7 linked regions of the Homo sapiens genome follow. The gene in region 7 interacts genetically with the main gene of each other region. Each region holds a gene or a part of one and is shown on either strand. Other genes may lie near its edges. The genes, in order: SLC39A9, B3GNT2, IGF2BP1, SEC24C, RAB5C, CARM1 and SEC23IP.

Region 1 (3,500 bases), on a different chromosome or scaffold from region 7:
TGTCCCCACCCAAATCTCATCTTGAGTTGTAGTTCCCATGCGAGGGACCTGGTGGGAGGTCATGCTGTTCTTGTGATAGTGAGTTCTTGCTGTTCTTGTGACAGTGAGTTCTCACGAGATCTGATGGTTTTATAAGGGGCTTTCCCCCTTTTGCTCAGCACTTCTCCATCCTGCCGCCCCATGAAGAAGGATGTGTTTGCCTCCTCTTCTGCCATGATTGTAAGTTTCCTTAGGCCTCCCCAGCTATGCTGAATTGTGAGTCAATCAAACCTCTTTCGTTTATAAATTACCCAGTCTCAGAAATGTCTTTATTAGCAGTGTAAGAATGGACTAATACAGACACAAAACTTTAAAACACGAAAGAACAAAACAAAGCTTAAAATGAGAGTAAGTATAATGAAGAAAAGAGAGTTAAATACTAAGAAAAATAGTATAAAGCAGGGAGGGTAGAGGAAAAGCCCTGGCCTCTCCAAATAGAATGGTAAATAGTAATGCAAACCAAACCCCACAACAAGACCTTTGGATTCCAAACAAATTGCCGAGAAGTTTCCATGACTGCGAAGGGGAGGAGGGGGAGGAGCTTCCCATTATTAAGTCTGTTTCCAAATAAAAGGTTTAACAATTATAAATTAGAACAAAGTTATAAAAATGAAAATCTTTACAAGTTTTTCTAATCAGTATTGAGAATCTGCCTCAATATTTTTGAAAGTTTTTATTATGTTCTAGACATAGTGTTAAGCCTGTGCTTATATTATTTCAACCTCACAACAATCCTAGAAGGTCATTTAACAGAAGAGATTTGGATTTTAATAGCTTGTTCAAGTAGTAACATTGACTTTGAATGATACTGTCTCAGACAGTCCCTTTTGAAATCAGTGCATTATTAATCATATTCATCTTTAAAATCATCCTAAGAATAGCACTACTTTCATCTGCCAACTTATGGATTTATGCTGTTGGTTATTTTAGGGAGTAGGTCTCCTTATGTTGCCAGTGGCTATTCACAGGCACACTCATAGCTCACTGCAACCCTGAACTCCTGGGCTCAAGTGATCCTCCCACATCAGCATTTGGAGTAGCTGGGACTAACCAGTGTGTGCCACTACATCCAGTTTTGCTGTTTTTGTTTGTTTGTTTTTTGTTTTTTTGAGAGGGAGTTTTGCTCTTGCTGCCCAGGCTGGAGTGCAATGGCGCAATGTTGGTTCACTGCAACCTCCGCCTCCCAGGTTCAAGCGATTCTCCTGCCTCAGCCCCCCAAGTAGCTGGGATTACAGGCACGTGCCACCACGCCCAAATAATTTTGTATTTTCAGTAGACACAGGGTTTCTCCGTGTTGGTCAGGGTGGTCTCGAACTCCCGACCTCAGATGATTCGCCTGCCTCGGCCTCCCAAAGTGCTGGGATTACAGGCGTGAGCCACCACGCCTGGCCTGCTTTGCTGTTTTAATACATGAAAAATGTGGCATTATAACTCAAACTGGTCTGCAATAAGAAAAGTATGGCAACTGAGATAAAGCCTTCAGAAATTTTTAGAGCAATATGATTATTACAATTATAGTAGTAATTTTTTATCTGTTGAATTTAACAATACATTTGGGCTTGTATTTTCTATGTCTTTTTTTCACTTCATTTTCCTACTATTTCATTTTTATAAGTGTATTGGTATGGATTGAAATAAAAATTAAAAACAAAAACTGATCCTTTACCAGGCAGTTTGAGGAATATTGCTGTAGAGCTCTGAGCCAAAAACAGCTTGCTCTCTGTTACCAGCTCTGTGACAAAGAGGAGACATACTCAGGTGAGTAACAACCCTCAGATAATCAATCTGAAATCCCACTTGAGCCATCTGTTTTTGTATCATAGCTCCATTTATCAACTGCAGCAGCACTGAGTTTATACTAGGTAATATAGGCTCTCAACCTACTTATGTAACATTGTTATTTAGAGCCAAAGAAAACTACTCATTAGCAATTCAATCGAAAAAACATAAGACAGTGTTAACTATAAACCAACGGGTCTCACTCCCTTACCAAACAGGGCTTCCTTTGTGTAAAGCATGCTTTGGCCTCCTTTATTTATTTATTTTTATTTATTTATTTTTATTTTTTTCTGAGACAAAGTTTTGCTCTTGTTCCCCAGGCTGGAGTGCAATGGTGGGACTCGGCTCACTGCAACCTCCGCCTCCTGGGTTCAAGCAATTCTCCTGTCTCAGCCTCCTGAGTAGCTGGGATTACAGGCACATGCCACCACGCCCAGCTAATTTTTGTATTTTTAGTAGAGATGGGGTTTCGCCATGTTGGCCAGGCTGGTCTCGAACTCCTGACCTCAGGTAATCCGCCCACCTCAGCCTCCCAAAGTGCTGGGATTACAGGCGTGAGCCACTTAGCACCTGGCTGGCCTCCTTTAAAAGTTAAAAGTGTTTCTCTTTCCTGTATACTGAAAAAATTTACATCCTGATTATCATAGTTACTTATAATTGCATTTGAGAATCGGATTTTTTTTCCTTTGTTTTATAAATTTTTAAGGCATGAAAGTACAGTTGCCAGGTCAAAGGGCAAGGAAGAAGGCCACAAAAGTATCAAGAAAGGTAGTTTTGGGGTGAGGAGAAACTGACAGAGAAATCAATGTCACATAAACCTCTTGGTGGGCACATCTGGCAGGTAGACCCCACCACTACTGCAATTTCAGACTACCTAATTTTAACTCGTTTTTAAATACTAATCTTGCCATAATTGATCATCTGACTTTTATTCCTGTTCTGAGATATTTTTAGAAAAAGTATTGAATGAGAAAGCAGCAGCAAGATTAAAAACATGAATAAAAAGCATATCTTTTCATGTAAATCAAGCTTGTCCAACTCATGGCTCGTGGGCCGCATGCAACCCAGGAGCACTTTGAATGAAGCCTTACACAAATTCATAAACTTTCTTAAAACATTATGAGTTTTTTTTTGCATTTTTTTTTTTTAGCTCATCACCTATCTTAGTGTTAGTGTATTTTATGTGTGGCTTGAGATAATTCTTCTTCTGATGTGGCCCAGGGAAGCCAAAAGATTGGACACCCCTGATGTAAACGAAAGTGAACTGTAAAACAGTAACACTAGCCTCTAAGAAAGCCAGACTTCCTTAAAAAGGCAAGTCATTTATCCAGTGTAGGAGTTTGGGGAATTATTTTCTAAGGAAAGAAATGGTGCTTTCCAGTCCCCCGTGAATGAAATTTATTTTTACAAATTTACCATCTCACTAGTTTCATTACAACATTGGTCCATAATAATGGCATAATTTACCTAGAAAATATGTTTAGTTCCTAGGAGATAGAAATCCTAGTTGAATTCTAGGATGTCTTTAAGTTATATATAACTTTCATTTTTTATTCTAATAGCTCAAAATGCATTGCATCTACTCTAATAATAAACAGATATTATGAATGCTGATTTTAGCATTTTAAGACCTACAGCTGGAAAAGACCATCTGACCGTCAATTTAAGAAAGCCACAAATGA
Region 2 (3,500 bases), on a different chromosome or scaffold from region 7:
TCCTCAATGCAAGCCTGGCCATAACTTGTCAGCACCCACACCCTCTCTCTCTCTCCCCTGACCACAAGAACTTTCACTGGTTCCTCACTACCTCCATAACTATTAACTGCCACATCTCTGCATGATCCCCGAGATTGCATCATGGCCTATTACACCTTTCTAAGCACCATGCACTCCAAACCCAATGGATCACCTGCTGTTTCCCCAAAAGACCTCTATGAGCCTTTCTGTTGTGTCCTGTTTTCTCAGCCTACAATCCCTTGAGCACTTCTACCTTCCTTTCTCTGCCTCTGAAATGTTATTCACATCCTTCAAGACCAAGCCCAAAGGCCACTTCCTTAAGAAGCCTTTCTTGGCTGCCTCCAACACATAATTGGCTTACACCTCTACCAAGGCAATCTTACCAGTTCCTGGCTGTCTCCACCACACTGCCCACTGAAGGCAGCAATCACGCACAGCCAAGCACAGTGCTAGGCACACACCAAGTGCTCAATCAATGCGTGTTTGGTCGGAGAACAAACTGCTCACTTCACCAAACATCTTGAGGTCTTAATGGAGAAGTATTCCAGGGCAGGTTTTCCGTGTTGGCTACTGTAATCTGGAGACCAGGGGACCCTCTGATGGAGTCTCTGGGGACTGTCTGCTCAGCACTAACAAAGGTACAAGTAGGGACCACAGTGTGGACAGATTTGAACTTAGGCCTACGAAGACTCTTGCCTTCTCTGCTAGACATCTCTAAGCAGGCCCATATTTTGTTTTAAATTTCCATAAAGTATTGGAAGTATGTTTTTCCTAAGGTCATTCTAGAAGTGTACAAAAGAAGAAATGAGCACTTAGAAGGACCCACATCAAGTTAATGTAGTTATAGTGGTGAGAGAGGGTGGAATTAGTTTTATTTTCCTTTACTTTATCTTGAATACTTTTTCTAAATAAACATTTAATGAAAGTCATTTAGAAAGAATGCCAAGTACTACCCAAGTTACATTTGCAGAATGAGTCCAAAAATGAAAAGTACCAAACAAATAAGGAGACATGAGGCCATGGAATTATGTAATACCGCTTACACGGTAAGATTACAAGAGCTGAAAATGTTTTAAGTGGCTTGTCTGAAGCAAGCAATTAAAATAATTGGTCCTGTGCTTTCACCTCTGAAATAATTATTTCACTAAACATAAAGCAGATGTTGTGAGCATCTTGGGCACTTATTGATGACTCTTACCCAAACTAAACTCTTCCACAAGCTCCATAATTGACCATAAACCAGTTCTCATCACTGCATCCTAGCTCATGTTACACAGGTGGCCAAACAACTCTGAATGGGACATTTCAATGACTGTCTTTAGAGAGGAAATGTCAAAAACAGGCAACTAACAAATAATACATCTTAAAGCTAAAGCTATATCAACAAAGTATTAAATAAAGATTTGTCTTCTAATTTTCAATAAAAGACCTACAGAACTTTTAATGAAATAGCTCATTTAAACACAAAAGATCTAGTTGCTTTAGTTATCACCCTGTTAAAGAAATAAAAAGGGGAAGAGGAAACTGCAGTCAGGCACAGTGCTAGGTATTCTAGGTGTAGCTTTATATTACTTTCCCCAGTAAATCTAACATAGGGCTTTATCTTCCCCATTTTACAAGTGAGAAAATTTATCCTGAAATAGTTCGTGTAATTTTAACTTTAGGCATTCCCATACGTAACTGAGACTCAGATTAAATAACTTGTCCGTAGTCACACAATAAGTGGTAAAAATAGAATTCAAGCCTATTTCACAAAAGACTACATGCCACACTGTATGACTGATTCCACTTACATGAAGTTCAACAGGTAAAACCCATCTATGATGACAGAAGTCACATCTATGATGATGTAAGAAAGAATAACAGTTCCTTCAGGGTGAGGGGGTGGGAACACGGACAAGACATGGGCGCAGGAACCTTCTGCAGTACTGAAAATGTTTATTTCTTAATCTGAGAGCTTACATACATGAGCTCATGCTTAATATTAACACTTCTCACACTTTACTGCATGTTATACATGAAGTTAAAAAAATCCTCATCTTATGGACTCCAAGTTTATGCTCTTAACCACTAAACCACCACATGGCACTCGGACAGAATCTAGCCACATGCCAGAATTGATTACCTTGGATTATCATTTTTTTCAAACATTCTGGTAAGCTACGTACATCCTACTCATATCAGAATGAAGACACCTGAACCCTCTGTTTTAAAATGCCACAGAATGAAAAGTAGAAAGTATCAATTTCCTGGCTACTGGGAATTTCCCCCTCTGTAGCCACATCAGAAAATGGTTTTTGTTTTTTTTAAGTTATAGATGCACAGAAAATAATGTGTAACATTCTTAAAGTTATATATGAAAATACCTAAAGCTAAAATTGCACAAGATACATGTTATGACTCTCAAAAGACATCTGAATTTTTGTTACAAAAATTAAGACAAGGCAAAAAGACAAAGCTGGTGGGCAGAGGTTGTTAATACTCACAGGGCAACACACAGAGGGCAAAAATCTCAACTCTTAAAATTTGTAACAAATAGAAAACTCAGTACAAATAACTTTTTCCAGCAGCAAAGTAATTGTGCCACATAAGCCCTAATAATAAATTCTCCATCAAGTAACAGGTTCCAGCCTGGCAAAGTCTCCTTACCAGTGAGTGATGATGAAATCATTACATCAATTCTCCCAAAACCTTACCCCACACATACATACACCTCTTATTCAAACAGTAATTGCCTCTCCAGAGAGAGGAATGTATTCATTCTGTAATTTGCAGACATATTTGGCAAGTACGTAGGAACAGCAATCCCACCTTAGAGAGTGGAGAAAAAGACAGCTGGGTCCACACCTTTTGGGTGTTTGTGCTGTTTTCTTTACTGGATGCAGCCAGGAAACATTTACCACTTCAGAGTCTAGTTTAATTCATGTTTTAACCTTCTGTACACACCAAAAATACCAAGCAACCAAATGACTTTAGTTTCCCCTGGGCACTTACATAAGAGACCAAAAGGCCTTTATGAGAATCTTTCAGTATTGGTGATGTATGTACCACCATCAGGGATGTTGCAATAGATTACACATCACCAAGTATTATCCTAGTTGCAAGATCTCAAGGTCTCAATGTTTATAAAAGTAACCATAGGCAGTTATTAATTTTTAAAGTCTCTAACAGACTTTCCAATAAAACCATCAAAAAAATACAGAAAAATACAGTCAAATACTACATCCATTAACCAAGTCAGAAAGAATGAAAAGCACTGACCCAGTATGTCAAGAGTATTAACAGCTGTGGATCAGCATCCCTAAATTAGGATTTTCATGAAACCCTAGCATTGCTAGAAAACATTTAAAGCTAAGGCCAGGCGCGGTGGCTTACGTCTGTAATCCCAGCACTTTGGGAGGCCTAGGCGGGTGGATCACCAGGTCAGGAGTTCGAGACCAGCCTGGCCAACACAGTGAAACCCTGTCTCTACTAAAGAC
Region 3 (3,500 bases), on a different chromosome or scaffold from region 7:
CAGGTTAAGCAGCAGCATCAGAAGGGACAGAGTAACCAGGCCCAGGCACGGAGGAAGTGACCAGCCCCTCCCTGTCCCTTCGAGTCCAGGACAACAACGGGCAGAAATCGAGAGTGTGCTCTCCCCGGCAGGCCTGAGAATGAGTGGGAATCCGGGACACCTGGGCCGGGCTGTAGATCAGGTTTGCCCACTTGATTGAGAAAGATGTTCCAGTGAGGAACCCTGATCTCTCAGCCCCAAACACCCACCCAATTGGCCCAACACTGTCTGCCCCTCGGGGTGTCAGAAATTCTAGCGCAAGGCACTTTTAAACGTGGATTGTTTAAAGAAGCTCTCCAGGCCCCACCAAGAGGGTGGATCACACCTCAGTGGGAAGAAAAATAAAATTTCCTTCAGGTTTTAAAAACATGCAGAGAGGTGTTTTAATCAGCCTTAAAGGATGGTTCATTTCTTGACCTTAATGTTTTTCCAATCTTCTTCCCCCTACTTGGGTAATTGATTAAAATACCTCCATTTACGGCCTCTTTCTATATTTACACTAATTTTTTTATCTTTATTGCTACCAGAAAAAAATGCGAACGAATGCATTGCTTTGCTTACAGTATTGACTCAAGGGAAAAGAACTGTCAGTATCTGTAGATTAATTCCAATCACTCCCTAACCAATAGGTACAATACGGAATGAAGAAGAGGGGAAAATGGGGAGAAAGATGGTTAAAATACATAATAATCCACGTTTAAAAGGAGCGCACTTGTGGCTGATCTATGCCAGATCACCATCTTCAAATTGGCACAACTGAAATTTCCCCACTCTGTTGGGGCTTCCCCACCACATTCATGTCCCTCTCCCGTGTAGGTTTCACATTATGTCCAGGTGCACATAGGTGGTATTGAATGCTCAGCAGGGTAGGGGCTGACCACTGTCCCTGATTCCCATCGTTCTCAGGCGGATTTTATATTTTTTTAAAGTCTATTTTAATGATTGGATATGAGCACTGGGAAGGGGACGCTAACTCCCCTTGATAAAGTCTCGGTTCCATGGAGGACTTGAGTGGCCCCAAAGGCTGCCACGGTGCCCTCACCCCAGCCCATGTGCTCCCATAAGGGCTGGTTCCTAGAGGCAGGGGTTGTGGGGCACTCCCAGCCACGGCACTGTTACCTTGGTGGTGGGACTTGGAACCCAACCCTGAGCTCCCGATAAAGCTAAAGTCCATCATCTGGCAAATTCAGTAAATTGGAGAGTACTTGCTTCTGTTTGTATCTGAGAGGAATTTTTAACTGACGGCTTCTGTCTCCATGAATCATTATCAGCATGATGAAAGGTGTGTCTAAAAAACAATTCAGAATACCAGCAGCATTGTACAGCAAGGGGTAAATAAGCTTAATTTATTAATTTACCAGGCTTAATTAAGATCCCATGGAGTGTTTAGCCCTTGTGGGAGACAGAAGCCATCAGTTAAATGAGGTTAGGCCTCTCCTCCTAATATACTGATTGACAATGCATATTAGCCAGGTAATGCACTTTAGCTACCCTGGACAATGCTATCAAGTGTGCTGGGAAGGGAGGAAGGCCTCTCTACATATGGAAAAGCCCATGCGTGGAGTTCCCCTCCTTTCAACATTGCAACAACAGTAACAACAAGACAACCGCAACATGTGGGCGTAGTCAGGCAATGCTGTGTGCGAAGTAAACTACCTCAAGGTATGAAGTTACCTCAGCAATTATTTTCCTTTTTGTTCCCCCCAACCCCATTAAAAAAATTTTTTTTTGATTTTTGTTTTTTTGCAGCTTGCTGATATTTTATATAAAAAAGAAAAGCAAAGCAAAAGAGAAGCTGATAGTCTTGAATATTTTATTTTTTTAATGAAAAGAAAAAACAAGAAAGTTATGTTTCATAATTTCTTACAACATGAGCCAGTAACCCTTTAGGAACTCTCTATGGAGAACAGGCCTGGTGGGAAAGGCTTTGGGGGCTGCCCCCTTAGGAGGAGGCTAGTGCTAAGAGGGAAGGCCCAGGTTTGAGAGAGCCCAGAGGGGCAGAGCCCAGAGCCTTGTTTGGCCCTGATCTCTGACTTCTAGAGCCCCAGCTGCTGGCGGCTGCTGGAATATCCTACCTGATAGGATTAAAAGGCCTAGTGGAGCTGGGGGCTCTCAGTGGTTAAACAATGCCCAACAACCAACCAGCTGGCCCTTGGTCTCCTCTCTTTCCTCCTTTGGTTAAAGAGCATCTCAGCCAGCTTTTCCCACCAGTGGTGCTGTTGAGATATTTTAAAATATTGCCTCCGTTTTATCGAGGAGAGAAATAATAACTAAAAAATATACCCTTTAAAAAAACCTATATTTCTCTGTCTAAAAATATGGGAGCTGAGATTCCGTTCGTGGAAAAAAGACAAGGCCACCCTCTCGCCCTCAGAGAGGTCCACCTGGTTTGTCATTGCAATGCTTTTCATTTTTTTTTTTTGTTATTGTTTCATTTCAGTTCCGTCTTGCTATTCTTCCTAATCTATATCCATAGATCTAAGGGGCAAACAGATACTAGTTAACTGCCCCCACCTCTGTCTCCCTGTCTTCTTTAGATCGGTCTGATTGATTTTAAAAGTGGACCCAAACTTAGGGAATTCTTGATTTAGGGTGGCTGGTGGCAAGGAGGGGCAGGGGATATGGGGACGTGACTGGGACAGGTTCCTGCCTTATCATTTTCTCCCTAGGACATTCCCTTGTAGCCCCCAGAATTGTCTGGCCCAAATTGAATAGAAGCAGAAAAACATTTAGGGATAACATCAGGCCAGTAGAATTAAGCCTCTCCACCTGTCCCAACCATAAAAAGGGTCTCCCAGCTTTCCATCTCTGGCTCTATATGCTTTATCCCAAAACAAAGCAGATAACGTTCAGACGTCGGCCATTTAGTAATTTAAAGCGAATTTCCAGCAGCAAGCATGCTTTGATATCTGGTTCAGACTATCATCAGGAAGAAAAAAAAATCCCACAGTACCTGAAATGTGATTGTTGCAGTGTTCAGTTTCCTTGGGGGCCTGCTCCCTTCACACCTTGAGCCCAAGTCCTTTTCCGTTGGCTGATTCAGCTCCCAGAAGAGACGAGGAAGTGTGTGGCAAGGGACTGGAAAACTTCACTTGCTTGGATTAGGCAAGGCTCCACTCATTGTTGATATTTGCCCAGCAGGAAAATCATGTAAGTTATACCACCAGAAAGCAAAAGGAGCATGGTTTGGTGGTTAAGGTTTAGTGGGATGAAGGACCTGTCTTGGTGGGCCGGGCCCTCTTGTGCCCCGTAGGCTAGGTCTTAGGGCAACTCCTTGCCCTCCTGCTCAGCACCTCCATTTCCCCATCCTTGGTGAGATAACAAGCTATCGCGAAAAGCACTTGGGAGATTTGGATGATTTGAGAAGAGTGACTTAAAAAAAATGCTTCTGTGCTCTAAGATATATATGTGTGTGTGTGTGCTACATATATATTTTTAAGAAAGGACCATCTCTTTAGGAT
Region 4 (3,500 bases), about 46 Mb from region 7:
TATCTGTGGCTCACTGCAGCCTTGACCTCCTGGGCTCAAGCAATCCTCCCCCTAAGCCTCCCCTCCCAAGTATCTGAGACCACAGGCACACACCACCACACCTAGCTAATTTTTTTTATTTTTTGTAGAGACAGGGTCTTGCTATGCTGCCCAGGATAGTCTTGAACTCCTACCCCGGCTTCACAAAGTGCTGGGATTACAAACATGAGCACTGTGCCTGGCCCAACTCTAATCAAAGTGCCTTTCTCCGATAATCCCTTCCAGCCCGGACTGAGGTGTGGTTGTTCTACATTTGTTTCCAGAAGGTACTCCAATAATGACAGTGTCACCCTAGATTGATTTTTTTTTTTTTTTAGTTTTTGAGACAGGGTCTCACTCTGGCACCCAGGCCACAGTGCAGCGAAGCCATCATGGCTCACTGTAGCCTCAACCTCCAGGGCTCTAGCAATCCTCCTGCCTCCACCTCTGCTTCCCAGGCACACCAACAATGCTCAGCTATTTTTTTTTTTTTATAGCGACAGGATCTCCCTATGTTGCCCAGGCTGGTCTAAAACTTCTGGCCTCAAGTGATCCTCCTGTCTCAGCCTCCCAAGGTGTTGAGATTACTACAGGCATGAGCCACTGCACCTGGCCTCTAATTTAAAAAAAAAAAAAATTAGGCCAGGTGCAGTGGCTCATGCCTGTAATCCCAGTACTTTGGGAGGCCGAGACAGATGGATCATTTGAGGTCAGGAGTTCAAGACCAGCCTGACCAACATGGTGAAACTCCATCTCTACTAAAAAAATACAAAAATTAGCCCAGGCGTGGTAGTGCACACCTGTAATCCCAGCTACTCAAGAGGTTCAGACAGGAGATTCACTTGAACCTGGGAGGTGGAGGTTGCAGTGAGCCAAGGTCACACCACTTCACTCCAGCCTGGGTGACAGAGCGAGACTTCATCTCAAAAAAAAAAAAAAAAAAAAAAAAAAAAATTGGCCAGGAACAGTGACTCACACCTGTAATCCCAGAACTTTGGGAGGCCAACACAGGTGAATCACTTGAGGTCAGTTCAAGACCAGCCTGGCCAACATGGTGAAACCCTGTCTCTACTAAAAATACAAAAAATTAGCCTGGCATGGTGGTCATGCCTGGAATCCCAGCTACTTGGGAGGCTGAGGCAGGAGAATCACTTGAACCCAGGAGGCAGAGGCTGCAGTGAGCTGAGATCGTGCTATTGCACTCCAACCTGGGCAATAAGACCAAAACTCTGTCTCAAAAAAAAAAAAATATTACTGAGATGTAATTTCCATACCATTAAATTCACTTCAAGTGAACAATTCAATGATTTTTAGTAAATTTAGTTATGCAACCATCACCAGAATCAAATTTTAAAACATTTTCATCATTCCAAAAAGATGTCATGTCCATTTGCAGTCCCAAGAACTTTTTTTTTCACCCATCCACAGCCAGCCTGAGAGAAACAGCACTCCTTATCTCCCCTTTCCAGCGTGCAGACTTTTTTCCCCTAGTCAGCTTGTTCAATGAAGGTGCAGCCCAGGTCCAGACTTTATAAACAATGTCTCAGTTCCAAAACTACTCTCAGGAAAGCCCAAGGACTCATCTGCCTTCCCCAGTACCTGCTTAAATTTAAGGCCCTGGCTTCTCAAGATGATGAATCCACCCAATCTACAGGCAGCTCCAGAGTCAATTTACCACTCTGATTTTCAGTCCTCACTTGATGGCCAGGCACAGTGGCCCATGCCTGTAATCCCACCACTTTGGGAGGCCAAGGTGGGCGGTTCACCTGAGGCGAGGAGTTTGAGACCAGCCTGGCCAACACGGTGAAACCTCATCTCTACTAAAAATACAAAAATTAGCCGGGCATGGTGGCCCACATCTGTAGTCCCAGCTACTTGGGAGGCTGAGGCAGGGGAATCGCTTGAACCTGGGAGGTAGAGGTTGCAGTGAGCAGAGATCGTGCCACTGCACTCCAGCCTGGGCGACAGAGCAAGACTCTGTATTTAAAAAAAAAAAAAGATTTTCAGTCCTCACTTGGTCTCTAAAACTTAAGAATTTCACATTTTCTTTCAAGCTTAACTTTGCACTTAAAAATTTTTTTTGTTTCTATTTTCTCTCTCCTTTCTAGACTTTGGTAGCAGAGGGTTTTCAGATTATGTCAATCTACCACCCGGTTGAAACTTTTTTTTTTTCCTGAGACGGAGTCTCGCTGTCTGTCGCCCAGGCTGGAGTGCAGTGGCAAGATCTCGGCTCACTGCAAGCTCTGCCTCCTGGGTTCACGCCATTCTCCTGCCTCAGCCCCCCAAGTAGCTGTGACTATAGGAGCCTGCCACCGCGCCCAGCTAATTTTTTGTATTTTTAGTAGAGACGGGGTTTCACCGTGTTAGCCAGGATGGTCTCGATCTCCTGACCTTGTAATCCACCCGCCTCGGCCTCCCAAAGTGCTGGAATTACAGGCATGAGCCACCGCGCCTGGCCTGAAACTCTGACTCACTCCAACTGGGTAGTTTTCTTTATCTCTACACTGAAACTGCCTTTACCAATGACGCCAACCTTGCCAAATTCAATGGTCAATTCTCCATCTTCATCTTACAATTTGGCAGCATCTGACACAACTGATTACTCTCTCACCTTCTTGAAATACTCTCTTCACCTGACTTCAGGACACCACACTCTCCCGGCTTATCTCCCACCTCACTACTGCTCTTTCTCATTGTCTTTTGTTTTTTTTTTGTTTGTTTGAGATGGGGTCTTACTCTGTCATTCAGGTTGGAGTGCAGCGGTGCGATTTCGGCTCACTGCAACCTCCGCCTCTTGGTTTCAAGCCATCCTCCCACCTCAGCCTCCCAAGAAGCTGGGACCACAGGCATGTGCCACCACACCCGGCTAATTTTAGTATTTTGGTAGAGACAGGGTTTCACCATGTTGCCCAGGCTTGTCTCGAACTCCTGAGCTCAAGCAATCTGCCTGCCTCAGCCTCCCAAAGTGCTGGGATTACAGGAGTGAGGCACTGCACCTGGCCCCTCATTGTCTTTTAATGGCGGCTCCTCTTTACTTTTAAATGTTGCTAAGCTCCAAGTCTCAGTCCTCAATTCCATTCTTTAATCTCAATACTCACTTTTTAAATGATTTCATCTAGTCCCACGGCTTTAAATATCTATAGACTGAGGACTCCCAAATTTTTATCTCCAGTCCTAGCATCAGTCTTGAGCTGCAGATTTGTATATGCACCTGCCTACCTAACATCTCTACTTGAATAGAGTTTATATGAGGGACTTGAGCCTTTGTGGATTTTGGTATCTGTTGGTCAGGGGAGGTCCTGGAACCATTCCCCCATGGATACTGAGGAATGACTGTAGTGAGATTTGGGATACATCTTGAAGGTGGAATCAATAGAATTGGATGTGGGTTATACGGCATCATATTTGCATATAACCTCCCATATACTTTTTTTTTCCTGAGACGAAGTCTCACTCTGTCGCCCAGGATGGAGTGCAGTGGC
Region 5 (3,500 bases), on a different chromosome or scaffold from region 7:
TTAAAGGAGAGGGCAGACATTCAAACCTGCCCTTAAAGCAAACACCAAACACCTGCCCACTTCTTTTTTTTTTTTTTTTTTTTTTTGAGATGGAGTCTTGACCTCTCACCCAGGCTGGAGTGCAATGGTACGATCTTGCTCACTGTAACCTCCGCCTCCTGGGTTCAAGTGATTCTCCTGCTTCAGCCTCCCTAGTACCTGGGATTACAGGTGTGTACCACCACGCCCATCTAGTTTTGTATTTTTAGTAGAGACGGATTTCACCATGTTGGCCAGGCTGATCTCAAACTCCTGACCTCATGATCTGCCTGCCTCAGCCTCCCAGTGCTGGGACTACAGGCATGAGCCACTGTGCCCAGCCTTGCCCACTTCTTTTTTTTTGTTTGTTTTTGAGACAGAGTTTTGCTCTTGTTGCCCAGGCTAGAGTGCAATGGCACAATCTCAGCTCACCACAACCTCCGCCTCCCGAGTTAAAGAGATTCTCCTGCCTCAGCTTCCCAAGTAGCAGGGATTACAGGCATGTGCCACCACGGCCGGCTAATTTTTTGTATTTTTATTAGAGATGGGGTTTCTCCATGTTGGTCAGGCTGGTCTCGAACTCCCAACCTCAGGTGATCCACCCGCCTCGGCCTCCCAAAGTGCTGGGATTACAGGTGTAAGCCACCATGCCTGGCCCTCGCCCACTTCTTTTAACACACACTTCCCTTCCTTTCTTCACACACTTTGGATGTCGTGAACCTATGATTCAAACTTAAATCCATCTGATCCCACAGCTTGAGCCATATCTTTGGTCCATCCCCCAGAAAGTTGCTCACAGACAAATGGGAGAGCAAACAGGTCAATAGGATCAATGTTACAGTACGGATGATGGGAAGCAAGTCACAAACTCAGTTTCCAGAAGTTAAGACTCTCCAAATCTCCATTTCTGGTGAAGGGTTTAATGGGACAATGAGGGCGCGGCCCTGACTAGCCACAGTCCGGCTGACTGGCTTCTGCCGTGTGTGTATCTGATGGCAGGACAGAACGACCGTGCTTCTGCAGTTGTGTGTGGTGAGGCAGCACCGACCCCAGACCAGTACTTAGCAAGGATCAGTGGAAGCAAATTTGACTCTGCCTGTGGATACTGTTCTGTATGTCTGCACAAGGCTCGTTCCTGAGTGAAGGTGGCTTAAAAAAGTGGTGGCAGCAGCTGTTCAGACCAGTGGTATGAGCAGCCCTCACATGTGTATTCCACAGATGGGGTCTTTAACATTCCCTGGTCCTGTGCCTGCAGTACTTGGATATCCTCTGCTCACCTTGAGGCTGGTCTTTCTTTCTTTCTCTCTCTCTCTCTCTCTCTCTCTCTTTCTTTCTTTCTTTCTTTCTGTTTCTTTCTTTCTTTCTGTCTTTCCTTCTTTCTTTCTTTCTTTCTTTCTTTTTCTTTCTTTCTTTCTTTTTCTGTCTTTCTTTCTGTCTTTCTGTCTTTCTTTCTGTCTTTCTTTCTTTCTTTCTTGACGAAGTCTTGCCTTGTCGCCCAGGCTGGAGTGCAGTGGTACGATCTCGGCTCACTGCAAGCTCCCGGGTTCATGCCATTCTCCTGCCTCAGCCTCTCGAGTAGCTGGGACTACAGGCTCCTGCCACCACGCTTGGCTAATTTTTTGTACTTTTAGTAGAGGCAGAGTTTCACCATGTTAACCAGGATGGTCTCCATCTCCTGACCTCGTGATCCGCCTACCTTGGCCTCCTTTTTTTTTTTTCTTTTGAAATGGAGTCTTGCTCTGTTTCCCAGGCTGGAGTGCAGTGATGCCATCTTGGCTCACTGCAACCTCCGTCTCCTGGGTTCAAGTGATTCTCCTGCCTCAGCCTCCCGAGTAGCTGGGACTACAGGCGTACGCCACCATGCCCAGCTAATTTTTATATTTTTAGTAGAGACGGGGTTTCGCCATGTTGGCCAGGATGGTCTTGATCTCTTGACTTTGTGGTCTGCCTGCCTTGGCCTCTGAAAGTGCTGGGATTACAGGTGTGAGCCACTGTGCCTGGGCAATTTTTGATTTTTTTGTAGAGACGGGGTCTCCCTATGTTGCCGAGGCTTAATAAACTTATTCTTTCAGAATACTTTTAGAAAAGTTACGCAGATAGTACAGAGTTTTCTCACAATCCCTCACACATAGTTTTCCCTGTTATTAACATCTTATGTTAGTACGTATTTTACATTAAAGTCCATCCTTTATTCAGATTTCCTTAGATTTTTACCTGATGTCCTTTTGCTGTTCCAGGATCCCATGTTACCTATATTCATTGTCTCTTTAGGCTCCTCTTGCTGTGCCAGTTTCTCAGACTTTTATTGTTTTTGATGACCTTGACAGTTTTGAGGAGTGCTGGGCAAGCATCTAAAGAGGATCTCGGCCAGGCGCGGTGACTCACGCCTGTAATCCCAGCACTTTGGGAGGCCGAGGTGGGTGGATCACTTGAAGTCAGGAGTTCGAGACCAGCCTGGCTAACATGGTGAAGCCTCATCTCTATTAAAAATACAAAAATTAGCCAGGCATGGTGGTACGCACCTGTAATCTCAGCTACTCAGGAGGCTGAGGCACAAGAATCGCTTGAACCAGGAGGCAGAGGTTGCAGTGAGCCAACATCGTGTCACTGTGCTCCAGCCTGGGCTGGAGACAGAATGAGACTCCGTCTCAAAAAAAATAATAAAAAATAAAGAGAATCTCTTCTCAACTGGGATTTGTCCAGTATTTTTCTCTTTTTAACAGAGTCTTGCTCTGTCAGCCAGGCTGGAGTGCAGTGGTGCAATCTCGGCTCAAGCCATTCTCCTCAGCCTCCCAAGTAGCTGGGACTACAGAAATGCACCACCACGCCTGGCTAATTTTTGTAGAGACAAGGTTTCACCATGATGTCCAGGCTGGTCTCAAACTCCTGAGCTCAAGCGATCTGCTCACCTCAGCTTCCCAAAGTGGTGGGATTACATGCGTGAGCTAACACGCCTGGCTGTGTCCAGTGTTTTTTTCATAAGTAGACTGTGCCAAGTTTTGGGAAGGAGGACCAGAGAGGTAAAGTGCTATTTTCATCACATCATGTCAAGGGTACATACAATCCACAAGCCTTTCCATGACTGATGTCAACCATGATCACTTGGCTGAGGTGATGTGTGTGAGGCTTCTCTGTAAAGTTGTTCTCCCCTTCCCCTTTCCATGCTGCATGCACCCTTTGGAAGAAAGTCACTGTGTAGCCCACACCTAAGGAACAGGGACTTATGTTCATGTTCCCCTTGTTGAGGGCGGAGTAGCTACATGAGTTACTAAATTATTTTTTCTTTTTCTGTTTTTTTTGAGATGGAGTCTCACTCCATCGCCCAGGCTGGAGTGCAGTGGCGCAATCTCGGCTCACTGCAAGCTCCGCCTCCCGGGTTCACGCCTTTCTCCTGCCTCAGTCTCCCGAGTAGCTGGGACTACAGGCCTATAGGCGCGCGCCACCACACCCGGCTAATTTTTTTGTATTTTTTTTAGTAGAGA
Region 6 (3,500 bases), on a different chromosome or scaffold from region 7:
GCCTTGAACCCGGGAGGTGGAGGTTGCAGTGAGCTAAGATAGCACCACTGAACTCCAGCCTGGGCAACAGAGTGACACTCTTTCTCAAAAAAAAAAAAAAAAAAAAAAAAGGGGCCGGGCACGGTGGCTCACATCTGTAATCCCAGCACTTTGGGAGGCTGAGGCAGGTGGCTCACTTGAGGCCAGGAGTTCAAGACCAGCCTGGGCAACACAGTGAAAACCCATCTCTACAAAAAATTAGCCAGGCATGGCAGCTTCACACAGCTGGCCCCGAGGGCTCAGGCTGCCCAAGGTACATCTGGGTCACTGCACAGCTACCTTGAGACAAGGGGGAGGCCGGCAGTGGCTCATGGGCACGCAGCCTCTCCACCTCCAGCTGTCCTCGCACCAGCACCTGTGTCAACCACTGGACTCACTTCAGGTCTCTGGTAACCAAGCCTGCGGTGGGACCTTCAGACCATCTCCAGCCCTGGGCATTCCTGGACACCTCTCTGCTACCCTGGCTGCATCCACCTGGGGTTCTCCCACCCCTAGTCAGGAATCTTGTGTCCACCTGTGCCCCCAAGGTGGGTTGGTTAAGCCCTTCTGGTGGCTTCTCTGCGCCCTGAGCAAACTCTTCCTGCCTCTAGGACCTCGCCTCACTCCATCCACAGCTGGCCCAGTCACAGCTGGCCCAGGGCTGGCCACTGCCAGAAAGACTGGTCCCAGGTGGTCAGGATGGGCCTCTTGGAGGTGGGGACATAGAAGCCAAGCCCCAAAAGACCCGGAGGAGCCGGTGAGGGAGGGTCTGGGATCCAGGGTCTGCCCAGGCCAGAGTGTATTCTGGGCATACCTGCATGTGGGAATGTGGTTTTGAGGGCAGTGGAGCCTTCTTAAGGATGCACGGGCCACCCCTCAGCCAGGCTCTACGCCCCTGCCCACCAGGGCTCTGGGCGCTTTGGGCTGGTGTCACCGGAATGGAAGGAGGGCCACGTACCGTTGGGTGTGGCGAACTGGATGAGGACGCTGTTGCAGCCCAGGGTGATGATGAAGGACTGCTTGCCCACACGGCTGCACTCTGTCTCTCGGGACACTGAGCACTTAAAGACACACACATCTTCATCTACGAGAGAAGACAGGCTGGCGTGAGCGGTGCAGCCCTGTCAGCTGCCTTCTTTTGAGCCTGGGTCCCTGTCGCCCTCCTGCTGCCTCCCCTTGGTGCCCCCAGATTCTTCCAGAGTGCCACAAAACCACCCTGGCAGCATTGCCGGGTGCCCTGACTGCCCAGCCCACATGGAAGACAAGGGAGCGACTGATCAGACAGCAGGAACACAGCCTGTGTCCTCAGGATGATCAGGGCTGAGACGGGCATGGTGAAGGCTGAGGTGGGCAGACAGGGCCACAAGGCATGGTGCTGGCCCACAGGAACTCAGAGCTGGAGCTGCCTCTGCCCTGCTCGGCTGAGCCCTTCTGTTCTTGGATGGGCGCAGAGCAGTGACTGCATGTGGCCAGTGGAGTCAGACCGCTGGGTTCACACCCCATCCATGCCATTTGTTCACTGTGACACAGGCATGTCCCTCAGCCTCTCTGGAACTGGGGTTCTCACCATCAGATGGGGCTAATGGCGGGGCAGTGGTCTAGTGAATTAGGACACTGTCTCCCTGTACCCATCATGATAGCTGTTACCAGTCATTCATTCCACAAACCTGCAGCCACTCCACTCCAGCCAAATGGTGAAACTTAGCGATGCCAGGAACGGGCCAGCCCAATCAGGCACTGTGCCCCTGCCTGCCATACTGCAGTGGGACAGGTGCATCATCTGTAGTATTCTTGGCAAAAATGTTTGCCCTAGTCTCATCTTCAAGGGACAACAGAAAAGGACAAGTTGTGGGGCAGGCTACAGGACAACCAGCCTGGTCTCCTTGAACAGGCCAATGTCAGGAAAGACCAAAACGGTGGGAGCTATTCCAGAGTGCAGGAGACAAGAAAGAGGGGAGTGCCCAATGCAATGCAAAGTGGGACCCTGGGCTGGAGCCAAACGAAAAATGTTTTTAAAAGTTATACAGGACAACTGGGGAGGCTGGGCCCACACCTCTAATCCCAGCACTTTGGGAGGCCAAGGCAGGAGGATCACTTGAACCCAGGAGCTGGAGATCAGCCTGGGCAGCATAGCAAGACCCCATCTCTACAAAAAAATTTAAAAATTAGGCAGGCATGGTGGCATGCGCCTGTTGTCTTAGGGACTCAGGAGGCTGAGGCTACAGTGAGTCATGACTGTGCCACTGCATTCCAGCCTGGGTGACAGAGCAAGACCTTGTCTCAAAAAAATAAATAAAGGACAACTGGGGAGCTGGACAGAGTGGCTCACACCTGTGGTCCTAGCTACTTGGGAGGCTGAGGTGGGAGGATCGCTTGAGCCCAGGAGGTTGAGGCTGTAGTGAGGTATGATGGTGCCACTGCACTCTAGTCTAGGCAACAGACGTGAGATCCTATTAAAAAAAAAAAAAAAGACAACTAGGGAAATGTGAGTGTGGACTACATATTCCATAATTTTAAGTTATTTGGATGTGACAATGGTATTGTGGTTTTGTAGAGAAATGCATATTTTCTTAGAAAACATATGCGGAAGTATTTATGGCAAATTCCCATGATGTCAGTAGCTTGCTTTTGAATAGCCCATCATAACAACAACAACATGAGTGCAAATATGGCAAAGTGTTCTCAATCACCCTGAATAGCCAAAACAGTCTTGAAAAAGAATGAAGTTGGAGGATTCCCATGTCTCAATTTCAAATTTTACTACGAAGGTACAGTAATGAAAACAGTGTAGTGGTACTGGCAAAAGAAAGGAGACACAGATCAATGGAACAGAATCAGAGTCCAGAAATAAACCCTTATACTTATCCTCAATTGATTTTTGATAAGGATGCCAAGAACATTCAATGGGGAAAGAATAGTGTCTTCAACAAACACTGTTGAGAAAACTGGATAACCACAGAGAAAAGAATGAAGTTAAACCCCTACCTCACACCATATACAAACAAAACAGAACTCAAATGGAGCAATGACCTAAATATAAGAGCTAAAACAAGAAAACTCTTAGGAGAACTATTTGCAAATCATCTATTGTTAAGTATTTAGTGTCCAGAATATATAAAAAACTATTTTAGGGTCAGGCATGGTGGCTGACACCTGTAATCCCAGTACTTTGGGAGTCAGGCAGATTACTAGAACCCAGGAGTTTGAGACCAGCCTGGGCAACATGGTGAAATCCCGTCTCTACTAAAAATATAAAAATATTAGTCGGTGTAGTGGCATGCGCCTGTAGTCCCAATTACTTGGGAGGCTGAGGTGGGAGAATCACCTGAGCCCAGGAAGTTGACACTGCAGTGAGCAGAGATGGCAACGCTGCACTCTAGCCTGGGTGACAAGAATAAGAGCATGTCTCAAAAAAAAAAAAAAAAAGTCTGGGCACAGTGGCTCACGCCTGTAATCCCAGCACTTTGGGAGGGCAAGATGGG
Region 7 (3,500 bases):
ACTGATGTTAGTAGATTATCCTACATGTATATCTGGACAATTACTTAGTGTAATAACTAGACCCCAAAGCAATTTTAAGAAGAATTTTTAAACCTAACAAAACCCCAAATCAAGGATAAATGCTTGAGGTGAGGGATATCTATACCCCATTTATCCTGATGTGATGATTACACATTGCATGCCTGTATCAAAATATCTCATGTAACCCATAAACATATATACCTACTATGTACCCACAAAAATTAAAAATTAAAAAATTTAGAAAAAAATCAATTACAAGGTGAACCAGACCTTCTCACAGAACACAAAGTAAACTAACACCTTTACAGAAATCAATCTAGCAATACATCTCCCATGATTTATTTAACCTTTTTTGTGTGTGTGAGGCGGAGTTTGCTCTTCTTGCCCAGCCTGGAGTGCAACGGCGCAATGCACAGCCTCCGTCTCCCGAGTTCAAGCGATTCTCCTGCCTCAGCCTCCCAAGTAGCTGGGATTACAGGCATGCGCCACCACACTCAGCTAATTTTGTATTTTTAGTAGAGACAGGGTTTCTCCAGGTTGGTCAGGCTGGTTGCGAACTCCCAACCTCAAGTGACCAGCCCGCCTTGACCTCTCAAAGTGTTGGGATTACAGGTGTGAGCCACCACACCCGGCCTATTTAACCTTTAAAATGTGCCTACTCCTTGACCTACTCATTCCATTTCTAAAAATTTATCCTAAAGATAGAATTATAAAAACAAATAGCCCAGGTGCAGTGGCTCACACCTGTAATCCTGCCACTTTGGGAGGCTGAGGTGGGTGGATCACCTAAGGTCAGGAGTTCGAGACAAGCCGGGCCAACATGGTGAAACCCTGTCTCCACTAAAAATACAAAAATTAGCTGGGCGTGGTGGCACAGGCCTGCAATCCCAGCTACTTGGGAGGCTGAGGCAGGAGAATCGCTTGAACCCGGGAGGCGGAGGTTGCAGTGAGCTGAGACTGCACCACTGCACTCCAGCCTGAGTGACAGAGACTCTGTCTCAAACAATAAATAAAAAATAAAAATAAAAAGTTATCCCCAAGGATATACATCAAAAGGTTATTTAAAATAGGAAATTGGTGTGTACAACTGTCAAAACTCAGCTAATTGTACACTTTAAATAAATCGAATTGTATACTGTAAATGGATGCCTTTTACTGTATGTAAATTATACCTCAATAATGTTGATTATAAAATCATAGCTAATAAATTTGGAATGTTTGCAAAAAAATAAATAAAATAGGAAATCACTGGAAATAATCAAAATGTCTAACAGAAACCTGATTAAATAATATTTAACTCAAATGCTAGATCCTCCAGCGCCATTAAAAATGTCTTATATCCTTTCTGCAGGAGATAGCTAAAAAAAAAAATAAGTAAATAAACAAAAATAAAAGTTTTAGAGGATAGACACGATGGTTCACACCTATAATCCCAGAACTTTGGGAGGCCAAGGAAGGAGGATCATTTGAGGCCAGGAGTTTGAGCCCAACATGAGCAACACAGCAATACCGTTTCTACAAAAAAATCTAAAAATCACACGGACATGGTGGGGCACACTTGTAGTCCCAGCTACTCCTGAGGCTGAAGTGTAGTTCAAGGTTGCAGTGAGCTGTAATCACACCACTGCACTCCACCCTGGATGACAGAGCAAGACCCCCCCCCCACTCTTTAAAAAAAAAAAAAAGAAGAAGAAAAAGAAAAAAATTTTAATGTTTTAGAAAAAATCTTAGTAACATTTAAAGTATGTTCACACAAAAAAAAAATAGATTATAGAAACCATAGGTATTATATGTTTGCCAAAAAAAGACATATAACAAAATGAAAACAGTGGTTATCTATGGACATTTTTTATTAAATTGAGTATTCTGCATTTTTCAAATTTTCTACAAAAACGATTTTAAAATCAGACTAGACTTATTTTAAAATTTTTTAATTAGACACCATTTTGGGACAGGTGTGGTGGCTCACACCTGTAATCCCAGCACTTTGGTAGGCTGAGGCAGGAAGATCACTTGAGGCCCAGGAGTTTGAGACTGCAGGTGAGCTGTGATTGCGCCACTGCATTCCAACCTGGACAACAGAGTGAGACCCAGTCTCAAAAAAATATATAATTTAGCCCATAATCCCAGAACTTTGGGAGGTCAAGGCAGGAGGACTGCTTGAGCCCAGGAGTTTGTGACCAGCCTGGGCAACATAGTGAGACCTCATTTCTACAAAACATAAAAAAAAAATTAGCCAGGTATGGCAGCATGTGCCTGTGGTCCCAGCTACTGGTGAGGCTGAGGTAGGGGGATCACTTGAACCTGAGAATTCGAGGCTACAGTGAGCCGTTACCATGCCACTGCACTCTAGCCTGAGTGACAGAGCAAGACCTGGCCTCAAAAAAAAAAATTTTATATATATATATATACACACACACACACACATACACACACACGTACATATACATACACATATATAATTTCTAAAAAATCATTTTGAAGTATTACATCAACACTCAATTTCCTGAGATTCATAGCTGCACTGTGCACATAAGAAGAATGTCCTTATGCTTAGCAAATGTACACCAGGAATTTAGGAGTAAAGAATCATAATGTATTTTACTGACCTTCAAATATTCCCCCCAAAATTGCATATATACAGAAAGAGAAAAAAACGATGAGGGGAAGGGAGGGAAGAGGGAGGGGCAGGAGGAGAAGCAGGAGGAAGGGGCAGGAGAAAGGGATGGGGGAAGAGGGAGGGCTCACATATGCCAGGGTGTGCACATGCACAAATTAAAAAACAAACGGGATGAAATGTTAATGATAAGTAAACCTGAGTAAAGGATATTAGAGTGCTCTTTGTACTCTTTTTATTTTTGCAACTTTTCTTCAAGTTTGAAATTATCATTTTTTAAACTTTTATCTAAAAACCTTTTTAAAAATTTAAGCAACAAACTACAATTAGTTTGTTATAGTTAGCAAAAATACTAACTATATACCACATGCTATGAATCTGGTTACTTTTCAGAATGCCGAAATCCAACATTGTCAAAAATTTGTGTATTGGTATGATTTAAATGAAATGATAAAACAGAGTCCATTCTCTATCTCTAACAGAGAAGTTAGTTACATTCTGATCACAATACTGCTATCTCCACCACACTGAAATGGGTTCTTAATTCTTTTTAATCATTTCTCTTTTTGTTTAATTCTGTTGATTTTTCTTTGGAAATCAAATAAACAATTAGTTGGGAAAAATGCATAAGGGAATTTCATGAAATTTACCCAATGCATACGTTATTCCACCAACTCTCCCTAGATAGAGTTTGACTGATCTAGATCCAAACTCCATAAAGAAATTACTGAAGTAATCAATTTTAGTCCCTGTAATTGAGTGTTTTGATTGACTAGTGTAATTGAAAGATGAGAAACTAGCAGTCTGTTAAGACAATAACCGCTTCAATTCTCCTATGTCTCTAGACAACACTTATTTTTAC

What was found.
Region 1: changes in SEC23IP (region 7) and SLC39A9 together harm fitness more than expected from each alone (negative genetic interaction), as found in Homo sapiens cells (one large-scale study listed by BioGRID).
Region 2: changes in SEC23IP (region 7) and B3GNT2 together harm fitness more than expected from each alone (negative genetic interaction), as found in Homo sapiens cells (one large-scale study listed by BioGRID).
Region 3: changes in SEC23IP (region 7) and IGF2BP1 together harm fitness more than expected from each alone (negative genetic interaction), as found in Homo sapiens cells (one large-scale study listed by BioGRID).
Region 4: changes in SEC23IP (region 7) and SEC24C together harm fitness less than expected from each alone (positive genetic interaction), as found in Homo sapiens cells (one large-scale study listed by BioGRID).
Region 5: changes in SEC23IP (region 7) and RAB5C together harm fitness more than expected from each alone (negative genetic interaction), as found in Homo sapiens cells (one large-scale study listed by BioGRID).
Region 6: changes in SEC23IP (region 7) and CARM1 together harm fitness more than expected from each alone (negative genetic interaction), as found in Homo sapiens cells (one large-scale study listed by BioGRID).

Annotation. Positions count from the first base shown.
Region 1 is NC_000014.9:69,401,692-69,405,191, reverse strand, and holds part of SLC39A9 (zinc transporter ZIP9), read right to left. Parts: intron 1-3,500. UniProt on the Homo sapiens protein: Transports zinc ions across cell and organelle membranes into the cytoplasm and regulates intracellular zinc homeostasis. Participates in the zinc ions efflux out of the secretory compartments.
Region 2 is NC_000002.12:62,199,115-62,202,614, reverse strand, and holds part of B3GNT2 (N-acetyllactosaminide beta-1,3-N-acetylglucosaminyltransferase 2), read right to left. Parts: intron 1-3,500. UniProt on the Homo sapiens protein: Beta-1,3-N-acetylglucosaminyltransferase involved in the synthesis of poly-N-acetyllactosamine. Catalyzes the initiation and elongation of poly-N-acetyllactosamine chains. Shows a marked preference for Gal(beta1-4)Glc(NAc)-based acceptors.
Region 3 is NC_000017.11:49,049,385-49,052,884, forward strand, and holds part of IGF2BP1 (insulin-like growth factor 2 mRNA-binding protein 1), read left to right. Parts: coding exon 1-60; 3' UTR 61-3,500. UniProt on the Homo sapiens protein: RNA-binding factor that recruits target transcripts to cytoplasmic protein-RNA complexes (mRNPs). This transcript 'caging' into mRNPs allows mRNA transport and transient storage.
Region 4 is NC_000010.11:73,754,372-73,757,871, reverse strand, and holds part of SEC24C (protein transport protein Sec24C), read right to left. Parts: intron 1-3,500. UniProt on the Homo sapiens protein: Component of the coat protein complex II (COPII) which promotes the formation of transport vesicles from the endoplasmic reticulum (ER).
Region 5 is NC_000017.11:42,144,990-42,148,489, reverse strand, and holds part of RAB5C (ras-related protein Rab-5C), read left to right. Parts: intron 1-3,500. UniProt on the Homo sapiens protein: The small GTPases Rab are key regulators of intracellular membrane trafficking, from the formation of transport vesicles to their fusion with membranes.
Region 6 is NC_000019.10:10,902,553-10,906,052, reverse strand, and holds part of CARM1 (histone-arginine methyltransferase CARM1), read right to left. Parts: intron 1,103-3,500; coding exon 977-1,102; intron 1-976. UniProt on the Homo sapiens protein: Methylates (mono- and asymmetric dimethylation) the guanidino nitrogens of arginyl residues in several proteins involved in DNA packaging, transcription regulation, pre-mRNA splicing, and mRNA stability.
Region 7 is NC_000010.11:119,899,230-119,902,729, reverse strand, and holds part of SEC23IP (SEC23-interacting protein), read right to left. Parts: intron 1-3,500. UniProt on the Homo sapiens protein: Plays a role in the organization of endoplasmic reticulum exit sites. Specifically binds to phosphatidylinositol 3-phosphate (PI(3)P), phosphatidylinositol 4-phosphate (PI(4)P) and phosphatidylinositol 5-phosphate (PI(5)P).